4 linked regions of the Homo sapiens genome follow. The protein of the gene in region 1 interacts with the protein of each later gene in a pairwise test. Each region holds a gene or a part of one and is shown in the gene's direction. Other genes may lie near its edges. The genes, in order: KLF11, C11orf54, EFHC1 and RGR.

Region 1 (7,029 bases):
GTCTGAAGGAGTAGAAACTCTTCCTTTGGCCAGGCATGGTGGCTCAAGCCTGTAATCCCAGCACTTTGGGAGGGCCAGGCAGGCAGATCACAAGGTCAGGAGTTCGAGACCAGCCAGACCAACATGGTGAAACCTCATCTCTACTAAAAGTACAAAATTTATCCGGGTGTGGTGGCGGGCGCCTGTAGTCCCAGCTATTCAGGAGTCTGAGGTAGGAGAATCGCTTGAACCCGGGAGGCGGAGGTTGCAGTGAGCCGAGATCGTGCCACTGCACTCCAGCCTGGGCAACAGAGCGCGAGACCCCATCTCAAAAAAAAATAAAAGAACAAAAAAAGAAACTTTTCTTTCATTTCTGAAAAATGTGCTCTTTCTATGGATGGATCATACCTTGCTAGCTACGTGGTTAATGTCCGTGGGATGAAACCTACAGATTAATGTGAGAAAGTGAAATTTACTTCCCCAGGGGAATCTCGGGGTGGAGCTTAGGTTCTCCAGCCTAGTGTCAGAATATATCGGTAGCAGCTGGAGAAAGCATGTACTTTGACATCAGATTGCCTTCGTTGGGTGGCACCTCTGCCCTCCCGTGGCAGCCGACTCCTTAATGTGAGTTCTGTGAGTTGGGTGCAGTAAGTCACTCTTGCTTTTTGTTTTTTTAATTTGCTACATCTGTGAAAGTACTTGGAAAAATTGCATCTCAGCTTGGAGAAGCTGAGAACTGTAGGTTGCTAACAGAAGTGGAAATTGTGATTGTCCTGGGCTGGAAGCTTGCTCTGAAAGAAGAGTGTAGAAAGCAGATTTGGAGAGGGATAGGAAGGGCCTGTGGGTTGTCGGGAGGGTTGCAGAAGTGGTGGGCCTGGCGGCCAGGAGCTCCTCTCAGAGTTCCCTGCACTGGGCTCTTGTGTAGGTTTGGGAGAGGTAAACACGTTGGGAATAAGCTGAGAAAGCAGAGTGCCTCATGCAGCCTTGAAACCCACTGGGATGTTGAAAACAGGGTTAACTGAGTGTCTAGATGATTCTGTGTAAAGGTATTGGGAGCATTGTGATGAATTAAATCCCTTTTAAAATTTAAAGCAACCTTTTAACATGGTACTTTTTTTTTTAGTGCATAACTCCTCCTCAGAGCCCTGATCTCGTGGAGCCATCGACAAGGACACCTGTTTCTCCCCAAGTAACAGATTCCAAAGCATGTACAGCCACGGATGTTCTCCAGTCCTCTGCCGTAGTGGCCAGAGCTCTGAGCGGGGGCGCGGAGAGGGGCTTGCTGGGTTTGGAGCCAGTGCCCAGCTCTCCCTGCAGGGCCAAGGGGACTAGCGTGATCCGACACACTGGGGAGAGCCCTGCTGCCTGCTTTCCCACCATCCAGACTCCAGATTGCCGGCTTTCTGACAGCAGAGAAGGAGAAGAGCAGCTTCTGGGACACTTTGAAACTTTGCAGGACACACACCTCACGGACAGTTTACTCAGCACTAACTTGGTGTCCTGTCAGCCCTGCTTGCACAAGTCTGGTGGCCTGCTGCTCACTGACAAAGGCCAGCAGGCAGGGTGGCCTGGTGCAGTTCAGACTTGCTCACCAAAGAATTATGAAAATGACCTGCCCAGGAAAACCACCCCTCTGATTTCTGTCTCTGTCCCTGCTCCCCCTGTCCTTTGCCAGATGATCCCTGTGACTGGACAAAGTAGCATGTTACCAGCTTTTTTGAAGCCCCCTCCCCAGTTGTCTGTGGGGACTGTGAGACCCATCCTAGCTCAGGCTGCTCCAGCGCCTCAACCTGTGTTCGTGGGACCTGCTGTGCCTCAGGGAGCTGTGATGTTGGTCCTGCCCCAGGGAGCCCTCCCTCCGCCTGCCCCCTGTGCAGCCAATGTCATGGCTGCCGGGAATACCAAGTTGTTGCCCCTTGCCCCTGCTCCAGTGTTCATCACCTCTAGCCAAAACTGTGTCCCTCAGGTAGACTTTTCCCGAAGGAGGAACTATGTATGCAGCTTCCCAGGTTGCCGGAAGACCTACTTCAAAAGTTCCCACCTTAAGGCCCATCTTCGCACTCACACAGGTAAGCGCTGGGGCAGGTGGGGCATTGGGCACACCAGACCCTGTGGTTAGGAAGCACACCTTGAGCCGCCTTTGGCTGGGAGGGGATCATGAGAACCCCTGGCGAAGGTGGAAGTGTGGCTTTTTCTTTGGTTCTGAAAAGCCCGCACAACCTTGTAAGGGTGGGATTGTTTGCACAGCCATCAGGATTTTGCCTACAGAGCGCTCGCCCTGGAAGATAAAATGTAGTATAGTTCTGTGATTGTGTCTTTTGGTAGCTTTTAGAGTGACTTACAGTGCCCCCTTCTGTTCACATTGCAGTAGACGTTTCATCCTTTTTTTTTTTTTTTTTTTTTTAAAGAAAACATGCATTCATTCACATTTAGTAAATGTATCTTACCAGTGTGACTTATGTTTATGTGAGAAAAGGTCTGGCCAAACTATAGAAAAGTTCAAATTCTAAAATATTTTTTAAAAGAGTATAGTTTTCTTACCTCTGAGAGTAGTTTTTAATTTAAAGTAAGTCACACAAGAAACTATGCTGACCTAATGATCTCTCTGTTGTCTAACCAGCTCTGTCCAATATAATTTTTTGCAATGGTGGAAATGTTTGTTGTCTGTCCATTAGGGTAGCCACTGGCTGCTCACACTTGAAGTGTGTGGCTAGTGTGCCTGAGGAACTGAATTTTACATTTTTTAGTATTTGAAGTTTAAATAGCTCCATGGGACCTGTGGCTGCCCTGCTGCGCAGCAGTGGTCTGAGTGTTGCTGGATAGACAATCGCTTCAGTAGGTGAGGGCACCATTTCTCAGGTGTTCTGTGAGTTTGTGTTCTGTTGCTCTGATCGTGGTAGCCTCCACGTGTAGAATAAAGTGCAGTCTGGTGTTCAGACATTATAAGAGGAACTCTACTACTCCATTCTACTGAGTGGCTGCTTGCTTTGAGGATAAAGCCAAACTTGGCCCATGAGGTACTCACCTCTGCCCATTCAGAAACAGTCTCCCCAACATTCTATGTCTGGTTCCATATTTCCACCCTTCCCTCTTGGCCCTCTGCCCATCTCTACTTACTGAAACCCTCTGAGGGCCTTCCTAGGATTAGTTATTAGATTGTTTCTTTATCTTCCTTCTTTGACCCTAGTGGTTTATTGTAGGTCTTACTATAGTCTCCCTTTGTTTTTTAGTTAGTTGTATATCTCACCTGGATATATTCCTGGTGCTTGATAAAAGGGCCTGACACTAGTCAGTAAATGAGGGTTGGTTGTTTGCATGGCAGATGGACGTGGGGCTGTGTCAGGGAACGGGTGTTTCTGAGGGGAATTGACCTGCCTGCCTCTTTTAATGGGCTTGTTGACTTGGTGAGCTCTGCATTTCACCGGGACTCTCCAGGGGAACTTTGCATTACACCAGAGCACAGCTTCCAAATGTTGGAGGTGACTGAATGAAGTTTTACCGTTTATTTGGTTTACCTTGGTAGAAGTACTGACAGAATGACCTGCAGTGATTGAAACAAGTTGCTTCCATGTTTCCTAAAGTACTTCCAATTCAATAACAGGCCTTGTACAGGGGCTCACGCCTGTCATCCCAGCACTTTGGGAGGCCAAGGTGGGCAGATCACAAGGTCAGGAGTTTGAGACCAGCCTGGCCAACATGGTGAAACCCCGTTTCTACTAAAAATACAAAAATTAGCTGGGCCTTCTGGCGCATGCCTATAATCCTAGCTGCTCAGGAGGCTGAGGCAGGAGAATCACTTGAACCTGGGAGATGGAGGTTGCAGTGAATGGAGATTGCGCCATTACACTCCAACCTGGGCGACAGAGCGAGACTCTTATCTCAAAAAAAAAAAAAAAAAAAATTGGCCAGGCACTGTGGCTCATACCTGTATTCCCAGCACTTTCCGAGGCCAAGGCAGGCAGATCACGAGGTCAAGAAATTGAGACCATCCTGGCCAACATGGTGAAACCCCGTCTCTACTAAAAATACAAAAATAGTTGGGCTTGGTGGCACGCTCCTGTAGTCCCAGCTACTTGGGAGGCTGAGGCAGGAGAATCGCTTGAGCCTGGGAGGCGGAGGTTGCAGTGAGCCGAGATTACGCCACTGCACTCCAGCCTGGTGACAGAGTGAGACTCCGTCTCAAAAAATAAAAATAAATAACTGTAAGAGTTCTGAAGAATCCCCTTGTGCCATTTTGTAAACTTGGAATTTTCATGAGAAGTAGAAACTGGGCAAGTTTACCTTGGATAAGATTGCTTTTTATATATATTTCTGCCAACCTGAAAAATATTTAAATTGGAGTAAGGTAGAGTGAATAGATGCTACCTTTTTTTTTTTTTTTTTTTTTTTTTTTGAGATGGAATCTTGCTCTGTCGCCCAGGCTGGAGTGCAGTGGCGCGATCTCGGCTCACTGCAAGCTCTGCCTCCCGGGTTCACGCCATTCTCCTCTCCTGCCTCAGCCTCCCGAGTAGCTGGGATTACAGGTGCCAGCTACCATGCCTGGCTAATTTTTTTGGTATTTTTAGTAGATACGGGGTTTCACCATGTTAGTCAGGATGGTCTCCATCTCCTGACCTCATGATCCGTCTGTCTCAGCCTCCCAAAGTGCTGGGATTACAGGTGTGAGCCACCATGCCCGGCCGGTGCTACTTTTTTTTTCTTTTTTGGACAGTCTCACTCTCACCCAGGCTGGAATGCAATGGCGCGATCTCCGCTCATTGCACCCTCCGCCTCCCAGGTTCAAGCGATTGTCCTGCCTCAGTCTCCGGAATAGTTGAGATTACAGGCACCCACCACCACACCCAGCTAATTTTTGTATTTTTAGTAGAGACAGTTTCGCCATGTTGGTCAGGCTGGTCTCGAACTTCTGACCTCAGGTGGTCTGCCCGCCTCGGCCTCCCAAAATGCTGGGATTACAGGCGTGAGCCACCGTGCCCAGCTGGATGCTACATTTTTTATTTTTAATTTTTTGAGACGGAGTCTCCTGTGTCGCCCAGGCTGGAGTGCAGTGGTGCAATCTCGGCTCACTGCAAGCTCTGCCTCCCGGGTTCACACCATTCTCCTGCCTTAGCCTCCCAAGTAGCTGGGACTACAGGTGCCCGCCACCACACCCGGCTAGTTTTTTGTATTTTTAGTAGAGATGGGGTTTCACCGTGTTAGCCAGGATGGTCTCGGTCTTCTGACTTTGTGATCCGCCCGCCTCGGCCTCCCAAAGTGCTTGGATTACAGGCGTGAGCCACTGCGCCTGGCTGGATGCTACATTTTTAATTAATTTATTTTTGTTTTTTGGTAAAGATTGGGTTTTACTTTGTTGCCCAGGCTAGTCTGGAACTCCTGTGCTCAACTGATCGTCTCCAGCCTCCCAAAGTGCTGCGATTATAGGTTTGAGCCGCTGTACTTGTACTTCGCCTGATTTATTTTTAAATATATTTTGAAAGATTAGCTTGAAATCTTTGGGTGCTAACATAGCTGCATCTTAAGTGTGGGAGGAATAAATGCCTTTTGGAGGATTTCTTGACCCAAATCATCCAATTCCAGAGTAATAAGATACCACTTTCTTCTGAGTTTGATGAACACGATTTTAAAATGACATGAATTAACCCCTTGAATAAGGTGCTTAGCGTTTCCTTTCTCTTTAATATGTATTTTCTCACCTCACAGGGGAGAAGCCTTTCAACTGCAGCTGGGATGGCTGTGATAAAAAGTTTGCTCGTTCGGATGAGCTGTCACGCCACCGCAGAACTCACACAGGGGAGAAGAAGTTTGTGTGCCCGGTGTGTGACCGACGTTTCATGCGCAGTGACCACCTGACGAAGCATGCCCGGCGCCACATGACGACCAAGAAGATCCCAGGCTGGCAGGCAGAGGTTGGCAAGCTGAACAGAATCGCCTCTGCAGAGAGCCCGGGGAGCCCACTGGTGAGCATGCCAGCCTCTGCCTGAAAGGTCCATTAGGACATCACTCATGGGATTTTTAAAAAGCCTCTTTCCAGGAATGGAACTGATGGATTCCTCTCCCACTGCCTCACCCAAAAAAAACGGTCTTGGCGGCCTAGGGGAAGATCGGGGAGCTGGTTTTGATGAAAGTATGTTAACTTTTCTTTTCCACTTGGGACCCTGTTCAGTATCTTTTGTAGTTTCAGAAGTTTTTTTGTTTTGGTTTTTTTTTTAAAGAAATGGTAGAAAATTTGATAATCTGAATCACCAGCATTCAAACAAATATTTCGGCAATAAAGTTTACAAAATCTGGATTTTTACAACCTTTTCTATTGATGTTTTGTAGAAATAAGACAGGGTACTAATTTTTATACTGGTTTTTAGAAAAATATTTATATTGTTGGTGCTCAAATCACCAATTTCTAGCTAGATCATTTTGCAGCCTTCTTTTCAGTGTTTAATAACAAAGTTTTTCCTAATGGCCCTTCTTTTAGTAAACTGGACATGTTATTCCACTACAAAAACCACAAGTTATCTGGCCTTTTAGATCTTTTTGGAATCGGACCTGGTTGAGTAAGGACCTCTTAAAAGGGAAAAATAAATTTTGCCGTCAGCTTCTTCATAACGTTTTCAAGGAAATTCTAGGCAATCATTCCTGTCACCAAAGAACTAAAATTTTGGTTGACTGGAACTAGTGAGCTGTGTCCATGGTGTGTCATGAAGGATGTACCCCAGAGAGTAACATGAGCCACTGGGCAGATCCCAGGGACCAGTACTTGCTGCAGGATCTAGTCTGTAATAGTCTTGGCCATGGCTCTGCTGAAAGCAAGCCATTCAGTTTCTTGTTTGTACCTAAAACACCAAAAAAGAAACACTCAAATCCAGCTGCTTTGTCAATTGTCAGTTCTGACTCCTTTTGCTGTGGCCTTATCCGTACTATATTGTGGGTAGAGTAACTTCTCAGAAAAAAAGGAAATGTCTGTATTGGTTGGATGAAACTCCACCAGAGCACAGCTTAGCTGGGGCGAGATGCATGTGAAGGCAGGCAGTGCCAAGATTCCGCTTCCTTTGTTTG
Region 2 (7,029 bases), on another chromosome or scaffold:
GCCTTCCAAAGTGCTGAGATTACAGGCGTGAGCCACCACGCCCAGCCTTGATTTTTTTAAAAATATGAGTGTAATGTATTTCCCCTGCTAATTAAGTAATTAACTAAAATTAAATAAAGGTCAGGAGACAGAAGAGTACAAGAAAGAAGGAAAAATGGTTAATCTTTTTTTTTTTTTTTTTTTTTTTGTGTGTGTGTGTGTGAGATGGAATCTCGCTCTGTCGCCCAGACTGGAGTGTGGAGTACAGTGGCACAATCTTGGCTCACTGCAATCTCTGCCTCCCGGGTTCAGGCGATTCTCATACCTCACCCTCCCAAGTAGCTAGGATTACAGGTGTGCACCACGACACCTGGCTAATTTTTGTATTTTTAGTAGAGACGGGGTTTCATCATGTTGGCCAGGCTGATCTCGAACTCCCAGTCTCAAGTGATGTGCCCGCCTCGGCCTCCCAAAGTGCTGGGATTACAGGTGTGAGCCATCATGCCCAGCCAAAATGGTTAGTCTTAATTTTGTCATGCAGAGTTATGCTTGGAAGAAGTGTTTTCTGGTCAGTAATTTGTGAGTCTTTAAATTGCAATACTAGAAGCCAGATATGCATCTAATATGTGTATGTATGATCTTTCATAAACATAGGAGTTTAAGACCAAACTGGCCAACATGGTGAAACCCAATCTCTACTAAAAGTACAAAAATTAGCTGGATGCAGTGGTGTGTTAGACATTTTCTACATGAACTGGTCTTGCTAAGATCACCAGTGACCTTAAAATGTTTACTAGTACTATTTAACCTCTCCACGTATTTCATACTGCTTGGCCATTGCTGCCTGACATTCTCCCCTAGGTTCTATCTTCTCTATCCTTGTTTCACCTGTTCTTCCTTTGTGCCTTTCCTTCCTCTTTTCTTCCATATTTTCCTGGTTCCTTTTTCTTTCTAATAGTCTCTTAAATATTGATCTTTTCCAGAATTCTTTCCTTAGCCTCTTCTTATTTCTAGTAATCTATCTGGGTATTTTTTAAATCCACTCTTATGGTTTTAATTACTACCTGAATATAACTTTGAAATTTGTACATCTCACCTAGATCTCTCTGGGTTTTTTTTTTTTTTTTTTTTGAGACGGAGTCTCGCTCTGTCACCCAGGCTGGAGTGCAGTGGCGCGATCTCGGCTCACTGCCAGCTCTGCCTCCCAGGTTCACACCATTCTCCTGCCTCAGCCTCCTGAGTAGTACACCCAGCCTCCTGAGTAGTACGCCCGGCTAATTTTTTGTATTTTTGGTAAAGATGGGGTTTCACCGTGTTAGCCAGGATGGTCGCGATCTCCTGACCTCGTGATGTTTTGTTTTTTGAGACAGAGTCTTGCTCTGTTGCCCAGGCTGGAATACAGTAGCACAATCTTGGCTCACTGCAACCTCTGCCCCCGCCGGGTTCAAGCAATCCTCCTGCCCCAGCCTCCTTGGTAGCTGGGATTATAGGCTCCCGCCACCATGCCCAGCTAATTTTTCTATTTTTAGTAGAGATTCACCATGTTGGCCAGGCTGGTCTCGAACTCCTGACTTCAGGTGATCCACCCGCCTCAGCCTCCCAAAGTGCTGGGATTGCAGGCGTGAGCCACCATCTGAGAATTTACATTGTACCAGAGCAAAATATTTTAAATTAAAAAACAAGAAACAATTTTAGCCAAAAAAAGGAAAACCACCCCAAAATAGATTTTTTTTAAAGAAATAAGGCGTCAAAGACATTCTAGAAACCTTACCCAATCCAAACTTTGGCCCCAGTTCTAACCCTTGCCCTTGCCTTGTATTGCCTTTATGCCACCAACTTTATAAGCCATGCTTGGTTATGATGATTATTAGAGACACAGGTACTTAAAATAGGACAGGGGTTCTAGCCACTATGTCTTCCAATCCCTGTTATTTGTAAAACTTTATGATAATGGAGAAGTTATATACTGTTGGCATTTTATTATTAAATTAGATGTTTGCCTGTTTTTAAGGTGGCTTGTGTTTTTGTTTTTTGGTTTTTTCTTAGGCATCTGTGGGAAAACTAGAATTGCAGAAGTTGGAGGTGTGCCTTACTTATTGCCTCTTGTAAACCAAAAAAAAGTAAGTACTTTTACTCTGCATATTCACATGAAGATTGTAGAAGTTGGGTTGATTACTGTGTTTATTATTAGAAGACCTGTTGATCAGTTGGCAAGGAAGTGCTAATGGATCAGTAATAAAAGGTAAACCAGGGACTTTGTACAAGTTGTGACTTAAATAATATTTTTTCCTCTTCTATAGGTTTATGATCTGAATAAAATTGCAAAAGAAATCAAGCTGCCTGGAGCCTTTATTCTTGGAGCAGGAGCAGGTCCATTTCAGACTCTCGGGTTCAATTCTGAGGTCAGCATATATAAGAAAATTATTTTACTTTATTGGTTTGACATTTGGTTTGTCTTTTTGCTTTTAGTGCCAAAAATCCTACTTTCTGAGTGAATTGTAAATCTCTCTGCAGGTTTGATACTACTTGATGTAGATTTCTGCTATAGCACACACTCCAACTGGACTAACTGTAATGGAGTACTAACTTGTAGTTTTAGATTTTCTTAGGTCATAGCTTCAGCCTTAGATAAATGCAGGGTTCTATGGTATTCTGTTGAAGGTTCTGGATTATAAAATATTTATATTCTTACAGGATTCCGAGCTTATCTATAAATCTTTGCTTTGGGTATGCAGGCAGCTTTGGATTAGAAGATGAATGGAATATTAGTGATCTAGTCAACTCCTTCTTCCACACCAAATAGTAGGAAACTATCACAATAGTATGATGGTTATTTATGAAAGTTAATAGTTATTACTAGTATATATTATTACCATATGAAAATATTACTGTTTCTTTGAATCTCATGAATACAAGACTTCAGTCTGCTCATTCTCTCATAACCTCTTCAGATATGAATAGTAGTCATACAAGTTCTTTGCAGAAACATTAGTACAATTTGCCTAGTGTTCAAGTTAGGAAAAAAAGTTAAAAATTTAAAATAAGATATTTAACGCAAGTTATAGATACACTGTAAGAAATCCAATAAATATCTTTTTTTTTTTTTTTTTTTTTTTTGAGATGGAGTCTCGCTCTGTCGCCATGCTGGAGTGCAGTGGCGCGATCTTGGCTCACTGCAACCTCCACCTCCCAGGTTCAAGCAATTCTCTTGCCTCAGCCTCTTGAGTAGCTGGGACTACAGGTGTGTGCCACCACGCCCAGCTAATTTTTGTATTTTTAGTAGAGACAGGTTTTCACCATGTTGGCCAGGATGGTCTTGATCTCTTCTCTTGACCTCGTGATCCGCCCCCCTTGGCCTCCCAAAGTGCTGGGATTACAGGCATGAGCCACAGCGCCCGGCCTATAAATGTTTTCCAAGTTTTTTATGTCTAAAATTAAATATTATGTATTTTATGTTCTCTTATTAGGACTTGAACTAAAATGTCTTAAAAGGATTAAATGTTTTGTAACATTATTCAAGATATTCTCTTTGCAGAGATACAAAGATTGACTAATTGCCTCACTTTCTTTTCAGTTTATGCCAGTTATTCAGACAGAAAGTGAACACAAGCCTCCTGTAAATGGAAGTTACTTTGCCCATGTGAACCCTGCAGATGGAGGGTGCCTACTGGAGAAATACAGTGAGAAATGTCATGATTTTCAGTGTGCATTACTGGCTAATCTTTTTGCCAGTGAAGGCCAACCTGGCAAGGTGATTGTGTCCATAAAAATACAATATTCCCTAAATGTTCTCAGAAAGCTAAAAATGTGAACTTTTACTGCCATAAATATGGTTTTGCTAAGAAAATTAGTTTCCCACTTTGGGAGGCCAAGCTGGGTGGATAACTTGAGGTCAACTTGAGGTCAGGAGTTCAAGACCAGCCTGGTCAACATGGTGAAACCCCATCTGTACCAAAAAATACAAAAATTAGCAGGGTGTGGTGGTGTGTGCCTGTAATCCCAGCTACTCGGGGGGGCTGAGGTGAGAGAATCGCTCAGACTCGGAAGGCAGAGGTTGCAGTGAGCCAAGATCATGCTACTACCCTCCAGTCTGGGCCACTGAGTGAGACTCTGTCTCAAAAAAAAAAAAAAAAAGAAAATTAGAGCTTCCTAAGTCAAAGCTCTTTAAATAACCCAGTAATGAAAGGTTCAGAGAGTATGACAGGCAGAGCAAAAGTCATCTTTAAGGTTAAGAATAATATGGCTGGAGGCCAGACGCGGTGGCTCACGCCTGTATTCCCAAGCATTTTGGGAGGCCAAGGTGGGTAGATCACCTGAGGTCAAGCATTTGAGACCAGTCTGGCCAACATAGCGAAACCTCGTCTCTACTAAAAATACAAAAATTAGACAGGGAAGGTGGCACATGCCTGTAGTCCCAGCTACTTGGGAGGCTGAGGCAGGAGAATTGCTTGAACCTGGGAGACAGAGGTTGCAGTGAGCCAAGATTGCACCATTGCACTCCAGCCTGGGCAACAAAGCAAGACTCTGTCTCCAAAAAAAAAAAAAAAAAAAAAAAGAATAGTATGGCTGGCACAATGGCTTATGCCTATAATTCCAGTCCTTTGAGAGGCCAAAGCTGGAGGATCACTTAAGGCTGGCAGTTTCAGACCAGCCTGGGCAACATGGCAAGACCCTGTCAAAAAAAAAAAAAAAAAATTTTTTTTTTTAATTAGCCAGGTGTGGTGGTACATGCCTATAGTCCTAGCTACTCAGGAGGCTGATGCAGGAGGATCCCTTGTGCCCAGGTGTTTGAGGCCGCAACGAGCTATGATCACACCACTGCACTCCTACCTAGGTGACAGCAAGACCTGTCTTAAAAAAAAAAAAAAAAGACTACTTAGTAAGCAAGACCTTTTTCTGAGAACTAAAAGGTAATAGAATATTAATTTGGGGAGTGAGTTTGTCATCTACATGAACCATACAGCTAAAATAAATAATGCCTACTTACAGGTAGTAAATAGGTTATTTGCTTCTTTCTGATGAATCACACATTGCTCTAGATAGAAATGGTGGTAGCAAAAACTTACAGCAAGAACAAAGTAAGGAAAACTAATGCCTTACTTGATATTTACTTCCTATTAGTACACAAAAATATGATTTCAGTGTTAGCTTTTGTGAAGACTCTCCAGTTTTGGAAGTAGAGATAGCCTCTTCAGCTACTTTGAGATAAGAGATTGAGAAGTGAAAATACTTAACGTCCAAGTTGTGGAGATAATACAGAATTTTAAGGGAAGTGAGAAAATGTAATCATTTTCTCCTCATCCCCACTTACCAAAGGTTAATTCCTTTAACCAAAGAATTACCAAAGGTAATTCTCAATCTTTGACTGCCTCGACACGTATGTTAAGAGTCTCTAGACTCTCTGCACTGAGAAACTTGTCTTTCTCAGTTTCTCAGTTCAAGAAAGCATGCTTAAGACTTACTAGTAAATTACATGTAACTGATAAGTATGTGTGTGTGTGTGTGCATACATATATATATGACTGATCAAAATTCACGGGATTGCAACATCTCAACTCAGATCTGGGGGCTCTAAGCAAAGAACAGAATATTTGCTTGATAGAATTAAATTATATAATGTTTTATTTCAGTAGTTATTTTGCAGCATAGTCAATGGTATGCATCTTTATGTCCTCTATAGGTAATTGAGGTGAAAGCCAAAAGAAGAACTGGACCACTTAACTTTGTGACTTGTATGAGAGAGACCCTGGAAAAACATTATGGAAATAAGCCTATAGGAATGGGAGGTACTTTCATAATTCAGAAGGGAAAAGTGAAGTCTCACATTATGGTAAGAGCCCATGTGTGCATACATGCATGAAGGAGTTTGTGTGTGTGCACTTACTTAAGATCTTAGGATTTTTTTTTTTTTTTAAACGGATCCTTGCTCTGTTGCCCATGCTGGAGTGTAGTGGCACAATCTTGGCTCACTGCAACCTCCATCTCCCGGATTCAAGGGGTTCTCCTGCCTCAGCCTACTGAGTAGCTGGGATTATAGGCATGCAGCATCACAACCGGCTCATTTTGTAGTTTTAGTAGAGACAAGGTTTTGCCACATTGGCCAGACTGGTGTCGAACTCCTGACCTCAGCTGATCCACCTGTCTCGGCCTCCCAAAGTGCTGAGATTACAGACGTGAGACGCTGCACCGGGCCAGATCTTAGGATTGTAAAGTATGTGTTGGGAATTCTACATTTGAAGACACTTTAAACAAATCCTTTTTATTATGATTGTATTACTTTAAAATTTAAATGATAATTTTATAAATCAGATTGTAAGATAATATCTTTGTCCATGTTAGTATATTAGAACTTTATTTTGGATATGTTTGTTTTTAAGATCAAGATAAATTCAAGGCCTGCAGAGTGACTCATGCCTGTAATCCCAGCACTTTGGGAGGCCCAGGTGGGAGGACCGCTGGAGGCCAGGAATTCAAAACCAGCCTGGTCAACATAGTGATGATGGCAGCGGCAGGCTCTCTGGAGCGGCTGCAGCAGGGAGGCACGGCTGAGGCTACACACTCTATGGAGCGGGTGGGAGCTGAAGACAGGTGGGAGTCCTGCCCCTTCCGAGTTGGCGCTGGAGCTCCGTTGGTGCCGCTGCAATCGCCCAAGCCATGGCTGTAGTCCCTGGCATCCCTGTGCTCTCCCAGTGGGAACAGGCGAGAGCCCCAACTGCCCAGGCGCAGCTGCAGCAGCTCAAACCCGCGGCTGCAGACCTGGGTCTCCCGCTCCACGGAGCAGGCAGGAGCCCTGCCTTCTCCACACAGCTGCAGCTGCCCAAACCGTGGCTGCGGACCCAGGCATTCCTGCATTCTTGGGGGTCTGGGAAGGCCCCCACTGCTCTTACAGGCTTGGAAATGCCTGCTCCCACTGCCTGGCTTCTCCCTGCTGTCGGCGCCTGCTCCGATCCAGGAGCAAAGTCAGGCAGAGCCCGGTCGCTGTCGCAGCCCAGCCAGGTGTGCACACGCTCAGGGCACTGCTGACACACCAGCCCCCTGCCGTCCCGGCCC
Region 3 (7,462 bases), on another chromosome or scaffold:
ACTGTGATCATGATATACTCTCACTATGAATGTATATGTATGTATATATCTTGAAAAAACTTTCACTGAATTATTCTTACAAACAAAATGGAATGCATCTGGATAGTTTCTATTCTATTCTTTTTTAAAAATAATTCTCGTTGTGGTCACAACCTATTAAGTTGATTTGAAGAACTGCTAAAGGAAATCTGCAGCAGTTTGAAAAATACTTTCCCACGTGACCGCTGAGTCATTCATTCATTAACTGTAGTAGGTCAGTAATTTTCCAACTATTTAATGGACATCTATGTAGTGCTAGGCACTGTGATGAGAGTTAGGAAAATGGCAATGAAAAAATGAAGACCATCTTCTTATGACGCTTATATCCTGTGAAGTATGTTCCATCAGCTTTGACAAGGAAAGAGAATTCCAACGGAATCAGCTAAAGCTATTGAATAGGTTTGACTTAAGGGAGGAAAAAGCAGCAGAAATACAGGTTTTTCCAAACCCCAGGCAGGAGCCCACATCAAGACTAAAATAGTCTAGACCCAAATGATGTAATTTTTGTGTCAAATGAAGATCTCCTGTGGATCCTAAATCTAATCACTGGATGTTTCTCCTTTTCCCATACTTTGCAAAGATCGAAGTGGATGACTGGGCCCTCTTTTTAGATAAAATATTTCAGAGGCCATGGAGTGATGGAAAGGAATGCTAGAGAGCACTCTGACTGAGGGACACCCCCTGGCCATATTCACGTGCTCACCACACCCCCAAGTACCTGCAAAACCTGCAGGTATGTAATTGGTTGTTTTCTTTTCCAGAAATTTTGCTGTACCATTTTTACCCAGCAGAGGGAAGCAGAACACCAAATCACTGCAGAAGTAATCCAGGACACATGCACACACAGCCCTTTGGTATTTTTTGTCCTGTGAATTTAGGTATTATAGAATGAGAATGTCACAGTTTTGAAAACAAATTCTGGGTAAAGTCAGCTCTGGGCAAAATGCTGAAAGAGGAGAGGTTTATTTTAGCTGACTGCTTATGGCCTGTCCCATCAGGATTGCCTGGAAGACATTACCCAGCCCACAAGGCCCTCTTTCAGGCTTGGCTCCTGGCAGTCTGACCTTTCAATTTTTTTCCATTCCCCAAGTTTTGGAACACCTGCTAAAATCATGCAATATTTCTGTGGTCTTCTGAGTCAGGCTTTATGCAATGGCCTTTCAATCATGGCATTTCCTACTTTAGCTGCCAGGAATGGTCAGTTTCCTGCCCTCTTTTATATATTCCACTAAGTGGGAAATGGTGGGTACAAACTGAAGTGCAATGCATGCTAAGTGGTCATGTAGACTGGAGTGCAGTGGCATGATCTCTGTTCACTGCAACCTCTGCCTCCCCGGTTCAAGCGATTCTCCTGCCTCAGCCTCCTGAGTAGCTGGGACTACAGGCATGTGCCACCACGTCCAGCTAATTTTTGTATTTTTAGTAGAGATGGGGTTTCGCCAGGCTGGTCTCAAAATCTTGGCCTCAAGTGATTTGCCCACCTTGGCCTCCCAAAGTGCTGGGGTTACGGGCATGAGCCACTGCACCCGACTGGGATACAAACTCTTAATCACAGCAGACCTTCTGAGGATCCAGGTACCTTTCTGAAGCCCTGCCTTTCCTCCCGCCCCACTTCTTTACAGACTTGTCCCTGTGCCTTTTAACACTAATGCAGTACGTCTGACTTCCCCTCCTCAGAGATGATAGCATTTTTAGGAGGCCATAGACCAACAGAAGTTGTCTTCATGCATTTCTGGGGTCCGAAAGTAGTTAAAACACACCCCTTAGCCATTTAACTGGCGTGCTTTTCTGGAAAGAAAGGCATGAGCAGAGGGCACTCCTCAAATAGAAACAGATGCGATAATGGACAATAGGCTTAGGCATGACTCAGCCTTTCCAGCTCCACACGCTCCTTCCCTACCCAACCCAGGAATATAGATCCAAGTGCAACCATGCACTTAGTCAAGAAGAGCTCTTCAAAGTGTGTCCTAATGCCATGAAATTTACTTTTAATAAGAGAGTGGGTAGGGAGGGATCATGGAACTTCTAACAGTTTAAGGTTATCATGAAGAGTCAGCAAAAATTACAGTAACCAGTGATTCTGGGTAATCAGCGTCAATGAGGTGGAGAGAAGTGGGAGAGGTGCCTTATCTTTGAAAGGTTAAACTTGCCATCTTTTTTTTTTTTTTTCCTTTTTTTGAGACGGAGTTTTGCTCTTGTTGCCCAGGCTGGAGTGCAATGGCGCGATCTCGGCTCACTGCAACCTCTACCTCCCGGGTTCAAGCGATTCTCGTGCCTCAGCCTCCCAAGTAGCTGGGATTACAGGCATGCGCCCCCATGCCCAGCTAATTTTGTATTTTTAGTAGAGGTGGGGTTTCACTATGTTGTCCAGGCTGGTCTCAAACTCTGACCTCAGGCGATCCACCCGCCTCGGCCTCCCAAAGTGCTGGGATTACAGGCGTGAGCCACCGCACCCAGCAAACTTGCCATCTTGACATATTCCTCCAGTGACTGGCATCCATCCTCAGTTGGTGTCTAAGGTATAATACAACGGACAGGTACTTTAAAAGTTTTCAGTAACTTCCACAATGCTAACCAATGTTTGAGGAATATGATTACATTTATTTTTTTAAAAAATAAGCAAGTTTTGTAAAAAGCACCAAAGGCAAAAAAACTTCATTGAAGTTTTTAAAAAATGTATTAAACTGCTGCATTAAGGTAATGTACTTACAGAAAAAGAAAAAGAGGTTTAAAAAAGGACAAGAACAGGAAACAGATGTAGTAAGGGGAGAAGAGTTAGAAAGGAAACTCTCTGGGCAGGGTATGGTAAGCAGGCATCAATAACTGCCTCAGGTGCCACTTAATGCATTCATGTCCTGGGCCTCCTGAGCGTCACACAAATTAGTGAAACCCAACAGGGGGATTTGCTCTGACAAGCAGCAATAAAAGTAAAGCTGCTGTCTGTATTGGCAGTAAACTACCTGTGACACTGAGATATGCCTTCTGTGTCTGGCTTATTACTCTATCATGTTCCTAAACTGGCTTGTCACAAACGCCTGTTACAAAAATCAGATTCCTGGCCTCCATGTCAGACCTAATGAATCCAAATCTCTCGGCACGTGGGTTTTGATTACTTTTTATTTTTAAGCTCCTCAGCAATGATGGATAGCTTTCTCCCCCCCCCCCCAAAAAAAATGTTTCAGGAATAGGATTATGTTTCTTTTAAGAAAAAATAATTTAAGCAAGTTTTGTAAAAAGCATCAAAGGCTATACCTATGATGCTGACAATATTTCACCTCACTTATCTGCTTCTTTCCCAAGACTTAGTCTTTCTCTTTGAAGGAGCTGTGTTCCTCCTAGTGGTTCTGATCTTTTTCATTGCAGCTGCAGGTACAAACGAGGGATTGAGGTGACCACCCTTCAACCTGCAGCTCTTCAGTCAACAAAAATCAAGTACCTATCAGAGTGCACCCTGCCCTGCAGCACATATTCAAGGCTTTCCCTACAAAAACAAAGGTGTTTAACCGAAGGGATTGATGGTAGAATAAAGAGAGCTGGGCGCGGTGGCTCATGCCTGTAATCCCAGCACTTTGGGAGGCGAGGTGGGCGGATCGCTTGACCCCAGGAATTCGAGACCAGCTTGGGCAACATAGTGGGACACTATCTCTACGGAAGGAGGGAAGTAGGGAAGGAAGGAAGGAAGCAAGGAGGGAAGGAGGGACGGAGGGAAGGAGGGAAGGAAGGAAGGAAAAAGAAAAGAAAGGAAAGAAAGAAAGGAAAGAAAGAAAGAGAAAGATTGATTTTAAAAAAGAGTTAAAAGGGGAAAAATACAATGTGGCAGTGGGAGAATTAAGGATGAGATGATTGCATTAGTTCATTGACCATCCCTGAGCAACAGAAACACAATCATGGGTAATCCTCGGCCCCTGCCTACAAGAAGCATGGGTCTAGTTTAGTAGCACTGCCAACTGGACCGACCATTTACACTTCTGTGTGAAATGGGGCAGAGGGGGGAGAAAAGAGTGCCTGAGCTCACAGCGTTGGCGGGGCGCAGTGAGGTCCGCCAGGACTAGGTGGAAGGAGAGAAGGAACGTCCCTCTCTGCAACTCATCTAAGGGCCTGCTCGGACCCCGGATCTCACAGCGAGAACTACCGCCTCGCTACACCCGCCTTTCCCCGCGCCACCCAACAGCTCCCACGTCTCATCCTCCGGGAGCGGGGCGGGGCGAAGCGGAAGAGGAGGGGCCGACACAACCACGCCCACTAGCCGCGCTCCAAGGCCGCGGCCCACTTACCGCGAGAACGCGGAGTCCTGCGGATGGCGCACGCGCAAACCTCCTGTGATGCCTGCGCCTCCTGGCCCCGCCTTCCGCTCGTGGGAGTTCCGGATGTTTAGCGTTACCATGGATCCTGGAGGTGCCCGCGAACACTGCTTGTCGCCTGGGCAACCGGAGAGGACGAAGCAGGACCTAGGTGGCGGCGGTGGTACCGGCTGCAATGGTGTCCAATCCCGTGCATGGCTTGCCCTTTCTTCCGGGCACGTCCTTTAAGGACTCTACGGTGAGCAGTTATCTGCCAGACTCCCACCTGTCCCCACCTTCCAGCAGCCCAGGAGGTTTCCCCGCTCAGTGCACCTCCATTCCCCTCCACTCAAGTCTGTCTTCTCTCCAAACACGTCTTCTGTCCTGACCCTGTTCTTTATTCTGGGCCGAACTTCTGCCGTTCTTCCCTAGCCATCCTCATCCCCTCTCTCCGATCCTTTGCCCTCCGCCTCATCCCTCTCTAGTTTTTTCCCACTCCATCTTGGCAGTGTGTTGGCGCCTTCATTCTCATCCCGTTAGCCGCGTTCTTTCTTACGGCCCTGCTCCTCCAAGCCCCTGCCTCTTGTCCCTTTAGATCACTGTTTCCCCCACCCTACTCCCAACCTATCTCTGGGCCCTCTCCCTAGCTCGTTCTCTCACATCATAACCTGTCTCCGTCCATCGCCGCCCTTAAAACCCCCCGCCACTATGCACCTTCAACCTCATTCCCACAGGTCCGTCATTCCCGCCCCACCTCTTCCTCTTCTGAATCCTGTACCCGGTAGTATCTCCCACTCCCAGCTCCATTTCCTGTTTTGTATGTATATCGATTCCGCTCCTCTTCTTTCCGCCAGGTCTTTTTCCTTTCTTCTTTATGCTTGCATCCAACCCCATTCTTTTTTCTCCATCTTCTACATTTTCCACAATTTAGTCCCATCCTCTCCCCATTCCTTTCTTTCTCCGTTGCGGGTTTTCCCCAAAACTTGCTCACCTTCCTCCCAAAGCATCTTTCCCTGCTTTGTAAGAGATATTCCTTTCCAGTTCCCTCAAGAATTGATTAGTTGCTGTTTATTCTTCCCCGGCCCTGTTCTTTTTATTCTAACGTTTTTGTAAAAAGATTCCTGTTTAGATTTTGTTTTGCTCCTTCCCCAACCTTGTGTTTTTATTTGCATTTTCTAGACAAAATTTTTTAAAAAGTAGCAGCAGCTTGGATTCTTTTTTTTTTTTAAACTCTTGCCACAGTTTAGCTCTTAAAATTATTTGGTTTGTTTTAATTCTGACAGGGCTACTGAAATGTATGTGCTGAAAAATCAATAATGAGATTCAGTAGACTGATCATCATAGATGAGCTAACAGTAGTTTATGTTTATATAGTTTAATACTTTAAACTCTTGCCTTCCTCTCCAGCTTCACAAAGTTAAAATATTTTGTCAATTTATTTTCTTTGGAAGAATCAATTTAGAATGAAATCGAAAGTTTGGTGAGAGAATTTGTATTCTGAATCTCTGTAATTATCCCTGCATTAAGACACAACATCATAGATTTTTAGTTTCAGTGGACTTTTCAGTTTTATGTAATTTAGAAAATGTTGTAGGCACTTGCCTGCCCTATACAGGATGAGCTTAAGCTTTTGGTGTTGGTGAGTATAGACAGGGCTGAGTTGATACAGGGAATTACAGAGGTGTGGATGGAAGTGCAAAGCTCTAAAAACATATTGCTGTATTACAAGTAAGAAGAACTGTGCATTGGACATATTTCAGATTTTAAATACACTGGCCAAGTGTCAACCAATTTGCCCTATTTGAAATTTGAAAAGCATCGTCAGTATATCTTCAGCAGTGAAGGACTGAATATGTATTAATGTAATTCTAAAGACATGCAGATAAGAAGTTAAAAAATTTTTAAAGGGGAGTGGGAAAACGATTTTAAAAAAAGACACACAGAAGGTGAACCATAATGGACAAGAGGGGTGGAAAGGGCCGAGGTTGCCTTGCCTGGGGTGTCTGTGAGTTATGGCTGAATGATGGTAGAGACATTTGTCTAAAACAAAGAAATAAACTGAAGTCACTGATGTTGCTTCTGTCTTTGGTGGTGGAAGAAGAGCTTGAAGTTCCATAAATTACCCAATGAGGATGTCAACTCAGCGCATTTTGTTCTATGTCATGTTTACTATATACCTGGAGCAGTCCCTGTCAACTGACTTGTGACTCTGAATACATGACCTTTAAAAACAAATGTCATACATTTGTTTTTATGGGTTATATACAGTTTATAACCCTTTTAGCAAAAGAAGTTTATTCTGTTGTACCTTTCATGTTAGTACAGATCTTGAAAGATGGTAGGCTGGGCTCTAAAGCAATTAGGATGTAGAAAGTTTTTTTCATAAAAATATTTTTTATGATTAATCTTAAATTGTATCTATGTATATATTTGAATATTATAGATAAGTAATTGTGAAAGTATCCTCACAACAGAAAAAGGAAACCATTAACATAACCTCTAATTTGCCTTTCTACTCTTTTTTATTTAATCTTTTAAATAAAAATGTGTTCATTGTAAAAAATCAACATAATTTAGAAATGTATAATACAGAGGACCAAACCAGTCTCTTCATGCACATATTTCCATGCTTATAATTGCAGTACACATATAATTTTATATGTTGCTTTTTCAGGCTTATTAAATCATAAATATTTTCACCAGGTTGCCACGTGATCTCTAAAATCAATATTTTAATGACAGCACCATAATCCATTGAGTGAGTTTTCGATCATTTACTCATGTCTTCATATGACTGTCTTTTAGATTGTCTTCAACATTTACCATTGTAATGGGCAGCTTCAGGCATATAGTTCTTTCTCATAATTCTGAATCATATTCGTAAATAAATGGTCGGGGTAGAATTATTGAGTTCAAGACTTTAAATATATACCATCCAGTTGCTTTCCAAAGAGTTGTAAGAATGTATCACTGTCATTGTGACAAGAGGGACAGGTAAAAATAAATTCATTCCATGTAAAAATAAAATTCACAGAACCGTATCTTCTAGGTTCTACAGTTTTTACGGCCCCAGATATCAGATGAAAAACATGAGAAGACTAGTGAAAAACTTAAGAGTATAGATGAGATACTCTTTTAATCTC
Region 4 (5,437 bases), on another chromosome or scaffold:
CCTTGCTTCTGCTTCTACTCATTCCGCCCTTTAACCTCCAATTCCCTCTGCTATTCTCCTGCCTCAAGAGCAGCAGTAATTTCTCGTTTCCTCTCAGGGACACCAGGGAATATGAACAATGTGACAGACAGCAACCAGGGGTTTTCTGCGTTTTCAGTGATCAAGAGAAAATCCAGCTTGTGCACAGCATAGGATGTTAGAACTGGAAACCACCCTCCCTTTGCTCAGATCGCCAAGGCCTGGGGAGCAAGGATCAGGACTGCTCAGATTCACCCAGACCCCGTAACTCTGGGGACCAGGGCTCCCTACTGGACACATCCGTGCTGTTCCACTTAACTCTTGCCAAGGATGTGAGGTTTGGCACAAAGTTACAGGCTTTTTAAATGCTACTTTTAAACCGCTTTGAGATGTTTAATTTAATCACAGTCACAGGGTGGTGCCCAAAAGATAAAAATCAACCTATAAGCACATTTGTCCAAGAAATACAATACTTCAAAATAAGCCCTCCTGGCCATTTTTTAGTTTCTGAATTACTATTCCCTTGCCACGGTTTTATTTTAACTTGGTCACCTGGATGACCTCTAGCAAAGGAGTCGTAACAAGCAACAAAGATTAGAACAAATTCAGATCTTAATATTATTTCTTTGCAACCACTCTATGAGGAAAGAGGTTTTCTTTCTTTTTTTTTTTTTTTTTTTTTTTTAGGCCGAGTTTCACTCTTGTTGCCCAGGCTGGAGCGCAATGGTGTGATGTCGGCTCACCGCAACCTCCGCCTCTGGGGTTCAAGCGATTCTCCTGCCTCAGCTTCCCGAGTACCTGGGATTATAGGCATGTGCCACCACACCCACCTAATTTTGTATTTTTGGTAGAGACGGGGTTTCTCCATGTTGGCCAGGCTGGTTTCGAACTCCTGATCTCAGGTGATCCGCCCGCCTCCGCCTCCTAAATTGTTGGGATATAGGCGTGAGCTGCCGTGTCCAGCCTTTTTTTTTTTTCTTTGTTTCTTTTTTTTTTCCTTTCTTTTTTTTTTTTTTTTTTTTTTTTTTTTTGAGACAAGGTCTTACTCTGTTGCCCAGGCTGGAGTGCAGTGGCAATCTCGGCTCACTGCAACCTCCGCCTCTCGGGTTCAAGCGATTCTCCTGCCTCAGCGTCCCTAGTAGCTGGGATTATAGGCACCTGCCACCACGCCTGGCTAATTTTTGTATCTTTTGTATCTGTTGGCCAGGCTGGTCTTGAACTCCTGACCTCAGGTGATCCACCCACTTCAGCCTCCCAAAGTGCTGGGATTACAGGTTTGAGCTATCGTGCCGGCCAGAAGGAGGTTTTCTTATCCCTGTGTCGCGGACTAAAAAATTGAGGCTGAGATGGGGGTTAACTAAGCAACTCACCAAAAACCACACACCTGGATTCAAACCTAGGTCTGGGACTCCACCACCCATGTGGTCAATCACAGTGCATGAAAGAAACTCTTTTTTTTAAGTCACTTCATCTGCCACTTTATTTATTTATTGTAAATTGGAAAAGGACTGTGCAAATCTATTTTAGCTGGAGCCCCGATGCTCCCCCGAGGTCAGAAGGAGAGAAAGGGCTTTCCTGGGACCAGAATCCAGTCCCCTGGCTCCCAGCTGGCTGCTGGCATAGGCGCCGCTTCTAGGCTGTCCTCCGCGATGCCGGTCCCAAGCCCTGTCTGGAGGTGCAAAGTTCACATTTACTGGAGGCTCAGGCAGCCGGGAGACAAGGCTGCCACCATGATCTCCTCATTTTTCTGCGTTGACTTTAAACCATTGTCTCTGGTGGGCATCGCCAAGGTCACACGCAGGGGTCCAGGGACCTCATCCCAAGCTGAGCGGCTTCCCGAGACCGCGTAGCCTCCCCAGGGGATTCCACGTCTTAGGGCCTCGGCTCCCGGGAGGGCCCCGAGGTGCTGAGCTCCGTTGTTCGTGGGTTTTTTTTTCCCCAAATAAGGGACAGTTAAGAGGAAAAAAAAAGTCTCTTGGTCAACATATTTTAATAATCCAAGATGGAAGAAAATATGCCCTCTTCCAGCTTAATCACCCTCTTTGTTAAAGAAAGTCAGGTCAGGGAGAAAACAGGCAAGAACTTGAGCGTCAGAATTGCACGTCCGCGTGTTTGTGCGGGGCTGGAACTTGGCAGCTCCCGCTGAAATTAAAGCGCGAGTCTTGCGCCCCCTCATGGCCCCAGGCGGCACCCCAGCATCTCCCGCTCTCTGGACAAGCCCCTCCCCCGCTGATTGTATTTCACATTGGGAGCCCAGACAGGGTGGTCTCGCCGGGTGGCTGTAGCTGTGGATGACGAGTTGGTTCTAGGACTGAGGCCTGAGGGCAGCTCAGCCTGGGGCCCCTTGAGCACGCAGTCACAGAGCCCAGGATTCCTCTTAAAGAGCACAGACGCAGGCCAGGCACAGTGGCTCATGCTTGTAATCCCAGCACGTTGGGAGGCCGAGGCAGGAGAATCCCTTGAACCCAGGAGTTCGAGACCAGCCTAGGAAACATAGTGAGACCCCTTCTGTATTTGACAAACAAAGAGTACAGACCCAGGAGGAAGCGCTCATTATCCACCCAGTCTCGGCCTCCAGCCACGTTGGGTATTGTCAGGCCATTTTACAGACACAGCAGCTGAGGTCAGGCAAGTTTAAATAAAAGGCTTAAGGTCACACAGTCTTAAACAACAGAGAGGCCCATCTGGTCCCAAGTTCCCCTGCAGACTCAGCCCCCTCCTGAAGCCTGGTCCATGCTGCCCCGCCCTGCTGAGTGCTGACCTGGTTTTCTTGGCCACATAGGGCTGTGGGCCACCTGGAGCAAGCTGACATCTCCTGTGACAATTTCTCCCCAGGTAAACACCACTCTGCCAGCAAGGACGCTGCTGCTCGGCTGGGGCCCCTATGCCATCCTGTATCTATACGCAGTCATCGCAGACGTGACTTCCATCTCCCCCAAACTGCAGATGGTACAGATACTTCTAGTACCTAAAACTAGACCCCTCTCCATCTTTGTTCTCTGTCTCATCTCATCTCACTTTCTGGATTTATGACCTCTGTGTCAGTCTCTTCCTTTCTGTGTTTCTTCCTTTGGATACTCACAAGGCATAGAGCATTAGTTTGCCCCCCTAATCCCCCACCTCGTCTCTGAGTCATACCAGGCTGCTGCTTGACATTGCCCAAACCTCATGTGAGATGACAGGGACAGCCAGCCAGATGGTGTAGATAAAGACTCTGTGACCAGGGGTTGAGATTAGTCCCCAGGCTGGGAGCAGGTGGGTCTGGACAAGAGTATGGCTCCATGGACTCCGTGAGCCATGCATCTCCACCAACTAGTCAGGGAAGCCTCCAAGGCTGCAGAACTAAATGATTGGCAGTTGTAGGTGGAGGGTGACCGGGGTCACCAGGTGAGACCAGAGAGAGGATCAGTGGCTTTGAAGCTTCTTTTCTGGACTTTTCTGCCACAACAGGTGCCCGCCCTCATTGCCAAAATGGTGCCCACGATCAATGCCATCAACTATGCCCTGGGCAATGAGATGGTCTGCAGGGGAATCTGGCAGTGCCTCTCACCGCAGAAGAGGGAGAAGGACCGAACCAAGTGAGCCTGCCACCCTGGAGTGAGCCCCAGGCCAGGAGGCTGTTCCAGGAGTCCTGCCCAGCAGCCTCAGTGGCCAAGCCCAGACACTCACCCACCTTCCCCAGTGGCCCCGTGGATCCTGGTCCTAGGCTGGACACAGGATTCAGAAAGACACCAGGCTGCACAGAAAGAGCCAGATGGACCTGAGTGTCGGTCACAGCCCCCTACACTCAAGGCTGAGAGGCCTCAGGAAAGTCATTCCTTTTTAAAAATAATAATAAATGTAAGGGGGTACAGTGCAGTTTTGTTACATGGATAGATTGCCTAGTGGTGAAGTCTGGGCTTTTAGTGTAACCATCACCCTAATAATATACGTTGTACCCATTAAGTTATTTCTCATCCCTCACCCCCTCCCACCTTGTCACCCTTCTGAGTCTCCAATGTCTATTATTCCACACTCCATGTCCACGTGTACACATTATTTAGCTCCCACTTACAAGTGAGAACATGTGGTATTTGACTTTCTGTTTTTGAGTTATTTCACTTAAAATAATGACCTCCAGTTTCATCCATGTTGCTGCAAAAGACATGATCTCGTTCTTTTTTATGGCAGTGTAGTATTCCATTCCATATACATATATAAACGTTATATATATGTAACGTTTTCTTTATCCAATCATCTGTTGATGGATAGATTCCATATCTTTGCTACTGTAAACAGCTGTGATAAGCATACAAGTGCAGGTTTCTTTTTGATATACTGATTTCTTTTCCTTTGGGTAGATACCAGTAGTAGGACTGCTGGATCAAATGGTAGCTCTATTTTTAAGACAGTATGGAGAAATCACCATACTGTTTTCCATAGGGGTTGTACTAATTTACAGTCCCACCAACAGTGTATAGGTGTTCCCTTTTCTCTGCATCCTTACCAATATCTGTAATTTTTTGACTTTTTAATAATAGCCATTCTCACTTGTGTGAGATAAGGTCTCATTGTGGTTTTAATTTCCATTTCTCTGATGACTTTTGATGTTAAGCATTTTTTCATATGCTTCTTAGCCACGTGTATGTATTCTTTTTGAAAAAATGTTTATTCATGTCTTTTGCCCACTTTTTAATGGCATTATTTGGATTTTTTTTGTTGAGTTATTTGAGTTTCTTATATATTCTGGATAATAGTCTGGATAATATATTCTGGATAATATATAATAGTCTTATATATTCTGGATATATTCTGGATACATGGTTTGCAAATATTTTCTCCGGTTCTGCACGTTGTTCATTCTGTTGATGGTTTATTTTGCTGTGCAGAAACTTTTTTAGTTTAATTAAGTCCCATTTGTCTATTTTTGGTTTTGTTGCTTGTGCTTTTGAGGTTTCTGTCATGAATTCTTTGCCTAGACCAATGCCCAGAAGAGTTTTTCCTAGATTTTCTTCCAAGATTTTTATAGTGTCCATTCTTACACTTAAGTCTTTAATCCATCTTGAGTTGATTTTTTTTTTTTTAAGACGGAGTCCTGCTCTGTCACCCAGGCTGAAGTACAGTAGCACCATCATAGCTCACTGCAACCTTTGCCTCCCAGGTTCAAGCAGTTCTCATGCCTCAGCCTCCTAAGTAGCTGGGATTACAGGCATGCGCTACTATGTCTGGCTAATTTTTTGGGGTTTAGTAGAGACAGGGTTTCACCATGTTGAACAGGCTGTCCTCAAATTCCTGACCTCAGGTGATCCACCCACCTTGGCCCCCAAAGTGCTGGGATTACAGGCATGAGCCACCGTGTCTATCCTTGAGTTGATTTTTATATATGGTAAGAGATATGGGTCCAGTTTCATTCTTCTGCATATGGCAATTTAATTTTCCC

Evidence for each region.
Region 2: the proteins of KLF11 (region 1) and C11orf54 interact in binary tests that used the Homo sapiens proteins (3 or more experiments, as listed by UniProt).
Region 3: the proteins of KLF11 (region 1) and EFHC1 interact in binary tests that used the Homo sapiens proteins (3 or more experiments, as listed by UniProt).
Region 4: the proteins of KLF11 (region 1) and RGR interact in binary tests that used the Homo sapiens proteins (3 or more experiments, as listed by UniProt).

What each region holds. Positions count from the first base shown.
Region 1 is NC_000002.12:10,046,548-10,053,576, forward strand, and holds part of KLF11 (Krueppel-like factor 11), read left to right. Parts: intron 1-1,102; coding exon 1,103-2,048; intron 2,049-5,679; coding exon 5,680-5,960; 3' UTR 5,961-7,029. UniProt on the Homo sapiens protein: Transcription factor. Activates the epsilon- and gamma-globin gene promoters and, to a much lower degree, the beta-globin gene and represses promoters containing SP1-like binding inhibiting cell growth.
Region 2 is NC_000011.10:93,751,657-93,758,685, forward strand, and holds part of C11orf54 (ester hydrolase C11orf54), read left to right. Parts: intron 1-2,025; coding exon 2,026-2,099; exon of another isoform or gene 2,100-2,103; intron 2,104-2,279; coding exon 2,280-2,381; intron 2,382-3,553; coding exon 3,554-3,730; intron 3,731-5,659; coding exon 5,660-5,809; intron 5,810-7,029. UniProt on the Homo sapiens protein: Exhibits ester hydrolase activity on the substrate p-nitrophenyl acetate, in vitro. Regulates DNA damage and repair by regulating HIF1A degradation via chaperone-mediated autophagy (CMA).
Region 3 is NC_000006.12:52,415,896-52,423,357, forward strand, and holds the start of EFHC1 (EF-hand domain-containing protein 1), read left to right. Parts: upstream 1-4,446; 5' UTR 4,447-4,515; coding exon 4,516-4,578; exon of another isoform or gene 4,579-5,086; intron 5,087-5,112; exon of another isoform or gene 5,113-5,173; intron 5,174-7,462. UniProt on the Homo sapiens protein: Microtubule inner protein (MIP) part of the dynein-decorated doublet microtubules (DMTs) in cilia axoneme, which is required for motile cilia beating.
Region 4 is NC_000010.11:84,255,040-84,260,476, forward strand, and holds the end of RGR (RPE-retinal G protein-coupled receptor), read left to right. Parts: intron 1-2,853; coding exon 2,854-2,967; intron 2,968-3,468; coding exon 3,469-3,600; 3' UTR 3,601-4,921; downstream 4,922-5,437. UniProt on the Homo sapiens protein: Receptor for all-trans- and 11-cis-retinal. Binds preferentially to the former and may catalyze the isomerization of the chromophore by a retinochrome-like mechanism.